2 linked regions of the Homo sapiens genome follow. The protein of the gene in region 1 binds, or shares a complex with, the protein of each later gene. Each region holds a gene or a part of one and is shown in the gene's direction. Other genes may lie near its edges.

The links. Proteins that work in one complex are often made in the same cells at the same time.
Region 2: SF3B2 (region 1) and SNRPD1 share a complex: the UniProt entries of both Homo sapiens proteins name them as parts of the minor spliceosome.

What each region holds. Positions count from the first base shown.
Region 1 is NC_000011.10:66,055,332-66,062,364, forward strand, and holds part of SF3B2 (splicing factor 3B subunit 2), read left to right. Parts: intron 1-203; coding exon 204-254; intron 255-1,506; coding exon 1,507-1,624; intron 1,625-1,934; coding exon 1,935-2,044; intron 2,045-2,722; coding exon 2,723-2,819; intron 2,820-2,982; coding exon 2,983-3,074; intron 3,075-3,498; coding exon 3,499-3,714; intron 3,715-3,869; coding exon 3,870-4,007; intron 4,008-4,183; coding exon 4,184-4,264; intron 4,265-4,450; coding exon 4,451-4,678; intron 4,679-5,250; coding exon 5,251-5,400; intron 5,401-6,354; coding exon 6,355-6,444; intron 6,445-6,559; coding exon 6,560-6,667; intron 6,668-7,033. UniProt on the Homo sapiens protein: Component of the 17S U2 SnRNP complex of the spliceosome, a large ribonucleoprotein complex that removes introns from transcribed pre-mRNAs.
Region 2 is NC_000018.10:21,629,289-21,634,028, forward strand, and holds the end of SNRPD1 (small nuclear ribonucleoprotein Sm D1), read left to right. Parts: 3' UTR 1-4,232; downstream 4,233-4,740. UniProt on the Homo sapiens protein: Plays a role in pre-mRNA splicing as a core component of the spliceosomal U1, U2, U4 and U5 small nuclear ribonucleoproteins (snRNPs), the building blocks of the spliceosome.

The sequences.
Region 1 (7,033 bases):
CCCTGGCCTTGGACTCATTAGGTCCCTGAAGGGGCAGTGGAGCCTTAGAGAAAGCTGGGTCCTAGAACTAAGGCTTCTGGGAAGGTCGGGACTAAAGATTGGAACATGGGCCCTTGACTGGAAGAGGATCTCAAGAAGCAAGAGTTGTGGCAGATTGGCGTGTTGGGTATTGGTGCTGGTATGAACTTGTTTTCTTTTTTAAGCAGGGAGATCATTCGCTGAAGGAACATGAGCTCTTGGAGCAGCAGAAGCGGGTAATACCCCTCCCCCTAACCTTTGACCTCGTGGTCCAGTCAGTTGGCTGTCATTTATAGTGCTTAGAGTGCACCATTCAAGTTTTCCCTGGAGGCTACTTTGTTCTCAACTAAGTTCTAGTATCTTCCAAAGCTTTCAATTTTTCTTGAAGTTCAGGAATTGACAAACTATGACCTGTGGCCTGCATGTGTATGGCCTATGAGCTAAAAATAACTTTAAAATTTTTTAAGGGTTATAAGAAAACCCAAACCAAAAATATGTACCAGAGTCTGTACAGCAACCCATAAAGCCTAAAATATTTACCTTCTGACCTATTATAAAAAGAGCCTGCTGACCTCTGCTCGCCTTACATGACATCATTCTAGATAGGACTCTGGGTAATTGAGTTATTTGTATTGGATTTAGACAGAATAGGACTGTAAGTCTGGGAATGTTATATAAGATGTTTGGCCCCAGAGGTGCATTGCATCAGTCATTACCCAGTGGGTTACTCAGGAGTATTAAAAAGTAAGTGTTAAAAAGCAACAAGTATGAGCTGGGTGCCGTGGCTCACACCTGTAATCCTAGCACTTTGGGAGGCTGAGGTGGGTGGATCGCTTGAGCTCAGGAGTTCGAGACCAGCCTGGCCAACATAATGAAACCCTGTCTCTCAGAAATACAAAAATTAGCCAGGTGTGGCGGCGCATGCCTGTAGTCCCAGCTACTTGGGAGGCTGAGGTGGGAGGATGGCTTGAGCTGGGGAGGCCGAGGTTGCAGTGAGCTGAGATCATGCCACTGTACTCCAGCCTAGGCAACAGAGCCAGACTCTGTCTCAAAAAAAAAAAAAAAAAAAAAAGCCACAAGTCTGGACCTGTGGGTAAAGTACTGTCTTTGCCCAGATTGTGCTGGATCTTGAGGGGTGGATATAAGAAAAGAGCTCAAAAGTTTCTTCTGTATAATTTAATCTTTTGGGGAAGAAAACTCTCTGAAAAGTAGAAGGCACTGTTTGGCTCAATATGAAATTCTCTGCTAGGAACCAGAAGTTTCCTGGGGTTTTCCTTGGTGTTATTTCTAGGGATTTTCCGTTGTGATGAGAGGGCTCCTCCGTTTGGATTAGTAGCCTGGAAGTGTGGGGGTGGAGGGGATGTCAGCACCCAAGTGGTTCGTGATTGTTCTCCTTGGGCCCATTACCCGGCTGAAAGAATGCATTTGCCAGGGGCTGCCTGCCAAATGCGTTTTCAGGCAGTATCTACTCCCACTTCCCTCCCGTAGGCAGCTGTGTTACTGGAGCAGGAACGACAGCAGGAGATTGCCAAGATGGGCACCCCAGTCCCTCGGCCCCCACAAGACATGGGCCAGATTGGTGTGCGCACTCCTCTGGGTCCTCGAGGTGAGACCCTGGAACCGAGGGGAAGGGCAAGGAAGGTGATTTAGACATTTTTAAAAAGACTTTTAAGGTATCTATCACATTTAAAAAGGGCATATATAGTAAATATATAGTTTAATGGTTTTTTACACACTGAACACACCTGTACAACCAGCACCTGGACCATGATCCAAAACATTACCAGCATTCCAAAAGCCACGCCACGTGCCCTCCTCCCCTGCAGGTTTACCATCACCCTTTCAGCAAGAGAGGTAATTTTTTACGTGAGTGTTTTGCCTCTTCTGACATTGGATTTCTTTTTCCCGTCTCTTAGTAGCTGCTCCAGTGGGCCCAGTGGGCCCCACTCCTACAGTTTTGCCCATGGGAGCCCCTGTTCCCCGGCCTCGTGGTCCCCCACCGCCCCCTGGAGATGAGAACAGAGAGGTGAGACTGATGATTTATTCCTAGGGATAAGAGAGTGGTAGTTTAGGATGGGACTATTTTTGGATTTTTAGAGAAAGGTTCTGTGAGAAGATGGGGGGACTTAAATTCCTGGGGGTAGTGGGGAGCCCTTCTTATTTAAACTAAGGGTATGGCAGAGGGACTGGGGAGACATTACTGAGGCAGAGTCTTGGGGTCCCTCTGAGGAACACTAAACCCCACTGAGCCCAGTTGGTGTTGCCCACTCTCTGCTGCTTACATCACCTGGGCAGCAGCCTTTCTAGTCCAAGAGGTGGAAGTTGGTGGAAAAAGGGCACTGTGGGCTGGGTGCGGTGGCTCACACCTGTAATCCCAGCACTTTGGGAGGCCGAGGCGGGCGGATCACCTGAGGTCAGGAGTTCTAGACCAGCCTCAACATGGAGAAACCCCATCTCTACTAAAAATACAAAATTGGCCAGGTGTGGTGGTGCATGCCTGTAATCCCAGCTACTCGGGAGGCTGAGGCAGGAGAATTGCTTGAACCTGGGAGGCGGAGGTTGTGGTGGGCCGAGATCGCGCCATTGCACTCCAGCCTGGGCAACAAGAGCAAAACTCCGTCTCAAAAAAAAAAAAAAGAAAGAAAGAAAAAAAAAAGAAAAAGGGCACTGTGATTTGCCTTCTCTGACTGGGTGTCTCTGGCAGATGGATGACCCCTCTGTGGGCCCCAAGATCCCCCAGGCTTTGGAGAAGATCCTGCAGCTGAAGGAGAGCCGCCAGGAAGAGATGAATTCTCAGCAGGGTGAGTGCCAGGCGTTCTGATGCTGTAGCCACAGAACCTGGAGAGGCTGAGCTGAGTCCTCATCCCTCTGTCCCTTTCCCTGGCTCTTGGTAAAGGCAGGTTACTGTGAACGAGTGCAGGGCAGTGGCACCGTGAAGACTCATCACCACCTTCTTCCTTACAGAGGAAGAGGAAATGGAAACAGATGCTCGCTCGTCCCTGGGCCAGTCAGCGTCAGAGACTGAGGAGGACACAGTGTCCGTATCTAAAAAGGAGGTAGGGATTGGAGCTGAGTGTGGAAGGAAAGCCAGGAGATGGGACTTGGGTACGGAAATAACACAATTTGTAAGTGTTCAGTAAGTAATAGCTTCTATTTTGTGCCAATTTCCGCCCTCAGCATCTTATAGATATTTTTCATTTAATTGCTTTGAGTTCCAAGTACTATACGTGCCTACATTTTACAGCTGAAAAAGCAGAGGTTCTGAGACGCACAGTAATTTACCCAAAGGCATACAGCTTGTGAGTGGCAGAACTTTGGAGTCTGACTCCAAGGCCCCTTCGCAGCTACTTCATGAGATGGCCTCCTTGGGAAAAGCCTGACTGTTGAACTGTGGGGGAGAATGGGGGAGGAGTTTAGGGGTTGGGGTGCTGGCACAGTGCTTGGATTCCCTGACCCAGCTGGTTTTCCTCCTCTTGACAGAAAAACCGGAAGCGTAGGAACCGAAAGAAGAAGAAAAAGCCCCAGCGGGTGCGAGGGGTGTCCTCTGAGAGCTCTGGGGACCGGGAGAAAGACTCAACCCGGTCCCGTGGCTCTGATTCCCCAGCAGCTGATGTTGAGATTGAGTATGTGACTGAAGAACCTGAAATTTACGAGCCCAACTTTATCTTCTTTAAGAGGATCTTTGAGGCTTTTAAGGTACAAGGAGAGCACACTAGGAAGGGGCAGTGCCAAACAGGGAAGGGGCTCAGAGGTGGGTGAGAGGCAGCGGTGAACAGGCATCTTTTAGTGCTGGCCTTAGGAACTGGGAAGGGGCTCAGAGGGCAGGGGTTTCACCTTGTCTGCCTCCTTAGCTCACTGATGATGTGAAGAAGGAGAAAGAGAAGGAGCCAGAGAAACTTGACAAACTGGAGAACTCTGCAGCCCCCAAGAAGAAGGGATTTGAAGAGGAGCACAAGGACAGTGATGATGACAGCAGTGATGACGAGCAGGTCAGGCCCAGCCCTCCTGGTGGGAAGCAGGGACTCTGGGCACAGGTGGCTGAGATGCATCCAGAGAGGGACCATGGTGAACTCTTACAGAGCTTTGGTGGCTTAAGGTTGGGGTGGGTTGGGCAGTTTCATTCACATCTGAGTCCTGCTTAAAAGGGCTGATTGTTCTGTTCTAGGAAAAGAAGCCAGAAGCCCCCAAGCTGTCCAAGAAGAAGTTGCGCCGAATGAACCGCTTCACTGTGGCTGAACTCAAGCAGGTAAGACCTGAGAGGATCCTGCAGGCCCTGGAGCCCAGCTGGGAGACCACCTGGGGAGCCAGGGAGGTGAAAAGGAGTTCTTTGAAGGAGGTGTGGGTGATTTGGGTTTGGGTCCTTTGAGGAAGAAGAGCTTCAGAACTGAGAAGTCGGGGCTCTCGAGAACACGCATTACTATGTGTTTTCCAGCTGGTGGCTCGGCCCGATGTCGTGGAGATGCACGATGTGACAGCGCAGGACCCTAAGCTCTTGGTTCACCTCAAGGCCACTCGGAACTCTGTGCCTGTGCCACGCCACTGGTGTTTTAAGCGCAAATACCTGCAGGGCAAACGGGGCATTGAGAAGCCCCCCTTCGAGCTGCCAGACTTCATCAAACGCACAGGCATCCAGGAGATGCGAGAGGCCCTGCAGGAGAAGGTGAGGGCCTGGCAGGGCTCAGACCTGCCCCCGGGTGTCCCCATCCTTCATAGCAGTGTGCTTCAAAATGGGAATCTGGTTTGAAACCCACCTACCACCTACTTGTTACTTGTCTAATTATCCTTTTGTTTTCCTCCTCTGCTCTTCCTCCCCTCTGCCTTCACTTTGCCAGCTCACCTGGTGACTCCTTTCTCAGATGTACTTTGTGGCTAGAGATTCGTGGTGGTTGTGTAACTTCTTAATTTTAAAGCTTTTAGTTAAATGCTTTGAATTCAGGAGGTAGAAAAGAACATGGGGAAGTCTCTGCTTTCCAGAGAACTGTTGAGATTCATCTCTTGATGAGATGGTTTAAAAACTAGTTATTGATATACACGGCTGAGGCTGATATTGTATAGTCTGTTTTGTTCAGTATGGATTATGTAATTTTGAAAGGTTTTAGCAGGAAGGATTTTGATGACTTTCAGGGTGAGATAATTGAGGCTTCCCATGATCTCATTTGGAGTTGGGAGCTGGATTCTCTACATGAATTTGGTGAGTACTTGTTAAGGCTTGTTTGCTGCCATTCTCCACAGGAAGAACAGAAGACCATGAAGTCAAAAATGCGAGAGAAAGTTCGGCCTAAGATGGGCAAAATTGACATCGACTACCAGAAACTGCATGATGCCTTCTTCAAGTGGCAGACCAAGCCAAAGCTGACCATCCATGGGGACCTGTACTATGAGGTTCGGGAGGGGGCTGGGAGAGGTCAGGCTGGGCCTTGGGGTTGAGACTGTCTAGGGCTTTTTTTTGTTTGTTTGTTTGTTTAAAAAAGATGGAGTCTCACCCTGTTATCCAGGCTGGAGTGCAGTGGTGGGATCTCGGCTCACTGTAACCTCTGCCTTGGGGGCTCAAGCAGTCCTCCCATCTCAGCCTCCTGAGTAGCTGGGACCACAGGCACACCACACCTGGCTAATTTTTTGTATCTTTGGTAGAGACAGGGTTTCGCTATGTTGCCCAGGCTAGTGTGGAACTCCTGAGCTCAAGTGATCCACCCGCCTCAGCCTCCCAAAGTGCTGGGTTTATAGGCATGAACCACCGCACCTGGCCAAGGAGGGCTTTTGAAGCAACTACGATAGTTCCTCAGCCTTAGAATTGCCCATCGACTACCCTCGGATGAGATGGAATTTAAAAATGAGGCTCTATTTGGAGGAGAGATGCAGATCTGGTGGCTTCTTTCCCTGATAGACTCTTCGTATCCTGTCTTAGAAATGATAATAGTTTGTGGTAGGTGGTTTAGGGATGGAGGGGCCAAGGGGCAGATGCTTTTAGGAAACTTTTAATATTGGGAGTGGTAGAGAAATTGCTGGTTTTTTCTGATCCTTGAAATCGTAGTCACCATGATGTCATGGAATTTATGAGGTGGAAGAATTTTGCATATCTTCCTGTCGAGTGCCCTCATTTTACAGATGAGGAGGCAGGTCCTAACGTTGGCCGTGTTCTCATAGTGGGTTATTGACAGCACTGTGAGTCTGGCCTGGTTTTTATTCCTTCCCCGACTTTGGCCAGGGAAAGAAGTGATGAGAATCAGAGTGGGAGCCAGGTAGCCCTCACTGGGATTTTATATCTGATGTGCGTTAGGATTGTGCTCCCACTGAGTGTCTGGGTCTACAATGTAGCATGCTCTGCTTTTCCCTCAGGGGAAGGAGTTCGAGACACGACTGAAGGAGAAGAAGCCAGGAGATCTGTCTGATGAGCTAAGGATTTCCTTGGGGATGCCAGTAGGACCAGTGAGTGTCAGTTAGCTGTCTGGGGAAGCAGCGAAGAGGCTGGTGGGGATTGGAGTGGAAGGCAGAGACAGGGATAGGGTTTGGCAGATGGTATCCTGTTCTCTTTTTCCTGCAGAATGCCCACAAGGTCCCTCCCCCATGGCTGATTGCCATGCAGCGATATGGACCACCCCCATCGTATCCCAACCTGAAAATCCCTGGGCTGAACTCGCCCATCCCTGAGGTGAGCATTGTCCTTTCGTTCATTCTTGGCCATTTCTGCTTTTGAACTGGAAGGTAATTTGTTTGTTTTCCTTCTCTAACTCCACCATGTGTCTCTTTATTTACTTAAAAAATATTTTATTGACATAATATTTGTCATATACCATGTGTATGTGTAGAAAAACAAATAATGGTTTTTGTTTTTTAAAGAAACTGACATGCTCATCATAAAATATTCAGTCAGAATTGACAAGTACAAAGATGAAAGCAAGTCACAATTTTACCACTCAGAAATAGCCAAATTCACTGTTTGGTGAATGTGTTTCCAGATATGTCTCTGAATATTAAGAATGACCAGAGAGAAATAATTTTATCTCAGCCAGATGTG
Region 2 (4,740 bases), on another chromosome or scaffold:
ATTACCACAGTGAGAGCTAAGCATTTCTACTGGGCAGTTTCATTTTTAGTTGATCAGGTTTTAAGTTTTTGAACTAAAATTTTTCTTTTTCTTTTTATGATGAATAAGGTTAAAATAAAAGCCTTAGACAAATTAAATTTGGCAGAGTTTAATTGAGCAAAGGACAATTCACAAATCAGGTAGCCCCTGAACCATAATAGGCTCAGAGGCTTCAGCCCAGCTGCATAGTTGAAGATTTATGGACAGAAGGAAAGTGATGTATGGAAAATGGAAGTGAGATACAGCAACAGCCGGATTAGTTACAGTTCAGCGTTTGCCTTATTTGAATATGGTTTGAACAGTTCGCTGTCTTTGGTTGGCTGAAACTTAGTGATTGCCACAAGAGTAGGGTACCGTCTGTTTACACGTCCAGTTAGGCTACAGTTCTATGTACTGAGAAACCTTTAAGCTGAACTTGAGATATGTAAAGAGACTTTAGGCTAAACTTAACAATATATATAGGATATATACCCTTCTACTTCACATGCACTGAATATGCATTTTATTGCTTTACTCTTCATTCTGTGGCACCTACCCACAGGGGAAGTAAGAAGTTTGTTTTGGTATTTCGGAAACTAAAGTCCTTATGGGATGGGGTCTAGAATTGATTCTCCTTTCCTGAGTTTTACTCCACGGAGTCTTAGGTACCTGGTAAAAAGTTGTCTTCTAAATTAAGGGTCATTGCTTTGTTGTCTAGCTGCTAATGTCTTACTTTTGTTTCTTTTGCTTTTTAATCAGTTCTTAATAGGATATAGTTTTATGTTTTCCAAGTTATAACTTGGAGTTAATGGTCACTAGATTATCAGTTATGAGCAGTGTTAAAATCTCCTATTAATGTGTAATGTACCTGTCAGTGCCTCCTTTATTAAGGGGTTCTTTGAGAATAAAAGAGAAAAGACCTACTTTATTTGACAGCAAAACTGTTCTAATTGTTAATAAGGACTTTTAAAAATTGTTTTTGATTTGCTAAGCTCAGAAAAAATGTCTCTCAGTGCATCAGTTCTTTGTAAAGCTTACTACGAAGTATTTATATGCTAAGGAAAACAACTGAGGATGTGGGTGGCTTAAATCTGTATTTTCATCATGTATGTGAGTTTTTTTTTTTTTAAGTAAAGAAATTTTCTGCAAAGATCGTTACCTTAAAAAAGTTTAGCCTGGGTGTGGTGGCTCACGCCTGTAATCCCAGCACTTTGGGAGGCCGAGGCAGGTGGATCACGAGGTCAGGAGTTGAAGACCAGCTTGGCCAAGAGGGTGAAACCCCATTTCTACTAAAAATACAAAAGTTAGCCAGGTGCAGTGACAGGCGCCTGTAATCCCAGCTACTCATGAGGCCGAGGCAGGAGAATTGCTTGAACCCAGGAGGCGGAGGTTGCAGTGAGCCGAGATTGTGCCACTGCACTCCAGCCTGGGCGATGGAGTGAGACTACGTCTCAAAAAAAAATCGAGAGAGAGATATATATATGTATTTATATATATATGTATTTATACTAATATATAAATATATACTAATAGATATATTAGTATACATGTAGAATGTACCTGTCATATATATTAGATATATAAATGTATATATTGGTATAAATAAATACTAGATATATATTTTTTTAAGTATCTTACCTCATCAAGTAAATTCAAATGCTTTTTGATTTTTCCACAGTTGATAATTTTTTTTTGTAAGTCATTGAAGTTATATAGTAATTAGCGTTTTTTCCCCCACAAATTATTGGCAGTGGTCACCCAGTTGTATTACAGGTTCTATGATCCAAAAAGGGATGTATGAAATTCATGATGATTAAGACAATTTTTTCTTTCTTTCTTTTGAGACAGAGTCTTGCTGTGTCACCCAGGCTGGAGTGCAGTGGTGCGATCTTGGCTCACTGCAACCTCTGCGTCCCGGGTTCAAGAGATTATTGTGCCTCAGCCTCCAGAGTAGCTGGGATTATAAGCGTGCGCCACCACACCCAGCTAATTTTTTTGTATTTTTAGTAGAGACGGGGTTTCACCATGTTGGCCAGACTTAAGACAATTCTTTAATAGTAAATATATTAAAGGTGAGTTGGCTTGACAAGATACAACCAATATGTAATTTTTCTCCACACGTTTTTTTTTTTTTTTTTTTTTTTTTTCTGGAGACAGTCTTGCTCTGTTGCCCAGGCTGGAGTACAGTGGCGCGATCTTGGCTCACTGCAAGCTCTGCCTCCCGGGTTCAGGCCATTCTCCTGCCTCAGCCTCCCGAGTAGCTGGGACTACAGGTGCCTGCCACCACACCCAGCTAATTTTTTGTCTTTTTAGTAGAGACGGGGTTTCACTGTGTTAGGATGGTCTCGTTCTCCTGACCTCATGATCTGCACGAGGCCTCCCAATGTGCTGGGATTACAGGCGTGAGCCACCGTGCGTCCCCGGCCTATACCTTTCATTAATTAATAAGCTGGGGGAATAAATAACTGGATTTCATTCTTTTCCATCTTCTGACCTGTTGGTGCTCCTATTGCTTGTATCCAAGTAGAAGGCAAAAGGCAAGAGACCCCTGTAATGCAGCAAGTGGAGAGATTTGTTGAAGGGGTCAAACAAAACCCTGCAAGAGTAGGAAATAAACAGTTGGCTCCTGTCCTCGTGGAGCTTATAGACAGAAGCAGATAACAAATAAAAATTGGAGCTTAGTGCCGTGGTGCACACTTGTAGTCCCTGCTACTGGGGAGGCTAAGGCAAGAGGATCGCTATAGCCTGGGAATTTGAAGCTGTAGCGTGCTATGATTGCAAGCAGCCTGGGTAACCTAGTGAGACCTGGCTCTTAAATTTAAAATTTAAATGAAAATGGCCACTTAGCATAAGAGATCTAAAATTACGTTTTGTCCTGGCATGGTGGCTCATGCCTGTGACCTCAGCACTTTGGGAGGCCGAGATGGGCGAATCACTTGAGGTCAGGAGTTCGAGACCAGCCTGGGTAACATGGTGAAACCCTGTCTACTGAAAATACAAAAATTAGCTTGGTGTGGTGGCGGGTGCCTGTAATCTCAGTTACTCAGGAGGCTTAGGCAGGAGAATCACTTGAACCCTGGAGGCAGAGGTTGCAGTGAGCTGAGATCACACCACTGCACTTCAGCCTGAGTGACAGAGCGAGACTGTTTCAAAAAAAAAAAAAAAATTTGTTTTGAGAGTTTTTGTGTCTAGGATGTTTGCAGTGTGAAGCCAGTCTAGTAACAGTTTAAATGTAATAATAAATCACAGTGGGTACTAGATTGAGTTTATTCCACTAGAGGTCATTATTTCATTTCCATGTGAAAGGGCTAAAATTGGGTGAAGAAAAAGCTATTTGAACTGATTACCATCATTTGCTATAAAGGAAGCATTATAGTATGAATAGAAAACAGACTAGAGTTTAACATGCTTCTCTTGACCCCTCTTCACCACCCCCTAAAAGGCAGATGGGATCTTAGGACTGCAGCATTTTGTACACATCTGATATTTAATGAGATGTTACATATGAACTTTAGTTTTTTTTCTTTTCTTTTCTTTTCTTTTCTTTTCTTTTTTTTTTTTTGAGACAGAGTCTAGCTCTGTCACCCAGGCTGGAGTGCAGTGGTGCAATCTCGGCTCACTGCAAACTCTGCCTCCCGGGTTCACGCCATTCTCCTGCCTCAGCCTCCTGAGTAGCTGAGACTACAGGTGCCCACCACTATGCCCGGCTAATGTTTTGTACTTTTAGTAGAGACGGGGTTTCACTGTGTTAGCCAGGATGGTCTGAATCTCCTGACCTCGTGATTCGCCCGCCTCGGCCTCCCAAAGTGCTGGGATTACAGGCGTGAGCCACCGCGTCCGGCCGAACATTAGTTTTTAAAGAAATGTATTATGAATATAGATAGAAAACCCAAAGTGAAGGAATAGAAAATGAAATATCAGTTTCTTTTAATCTATCATAATTATGTGAGCATAACTTAGTATTTTGAAATAGATTAATGTAGTCAGCAAACAATTCATGTATTACCTATAATAGATATCATACATATAACATTTAATAACATACAGTTCTTGTTCCTGAAGACTTAACCTAGAAAATAACTCCATAACAAGAAGAATCTCTGTCATAATAAACCAACAGCAGACATTTTCTAAAGGCATTAAAAGTATATCTGATACTGGCCTTTATTAATGTGAAATTCTTGTGGATCTGTGAAATAAAGAGGAGTACTTTCTTTTCGTTTTTTTTTCTTTTCTTTTTTTTTGAGACAGTCTCACTCCTTCATCAAGGCTGGAGTACAGTGGTGCGATCTTGGCTCACTGCAACCTCTGTGTCCCGGGTTCAAGCAATTCTCGTGCCTCAGCCTCCCGAGTAGCTGGGATTACAGGCATGCACCACCACACCCAGCTAATCTTTGTATTTTTAGTAGAGACAGGGTTTCACCATTTTGGCCAGGCTGGTCTCTAATGCCAGACCTCAAGCGATCTGCCTGCCTCAGGCTTCCAAAGTGCTGAGATTACAGGTGTGAGCCACTGCGCCCAGCCAATAGGAGTACTTTTGAAAAGGAAGATAAATTTTTTTTTTTTGAGACGTAGTCTTGCTCTGTCACCCAGGCTGGAGTGTAGTGGTGCAATCTCAGTCCACTGCAAGCTCCACCTCCCGGGTTCATGCCATTCTCCTGCCTCAGCCTCCCGAGTAGCTGGGACTACAGGCACCCACCACCACGCCTGGCTAATTTTTTG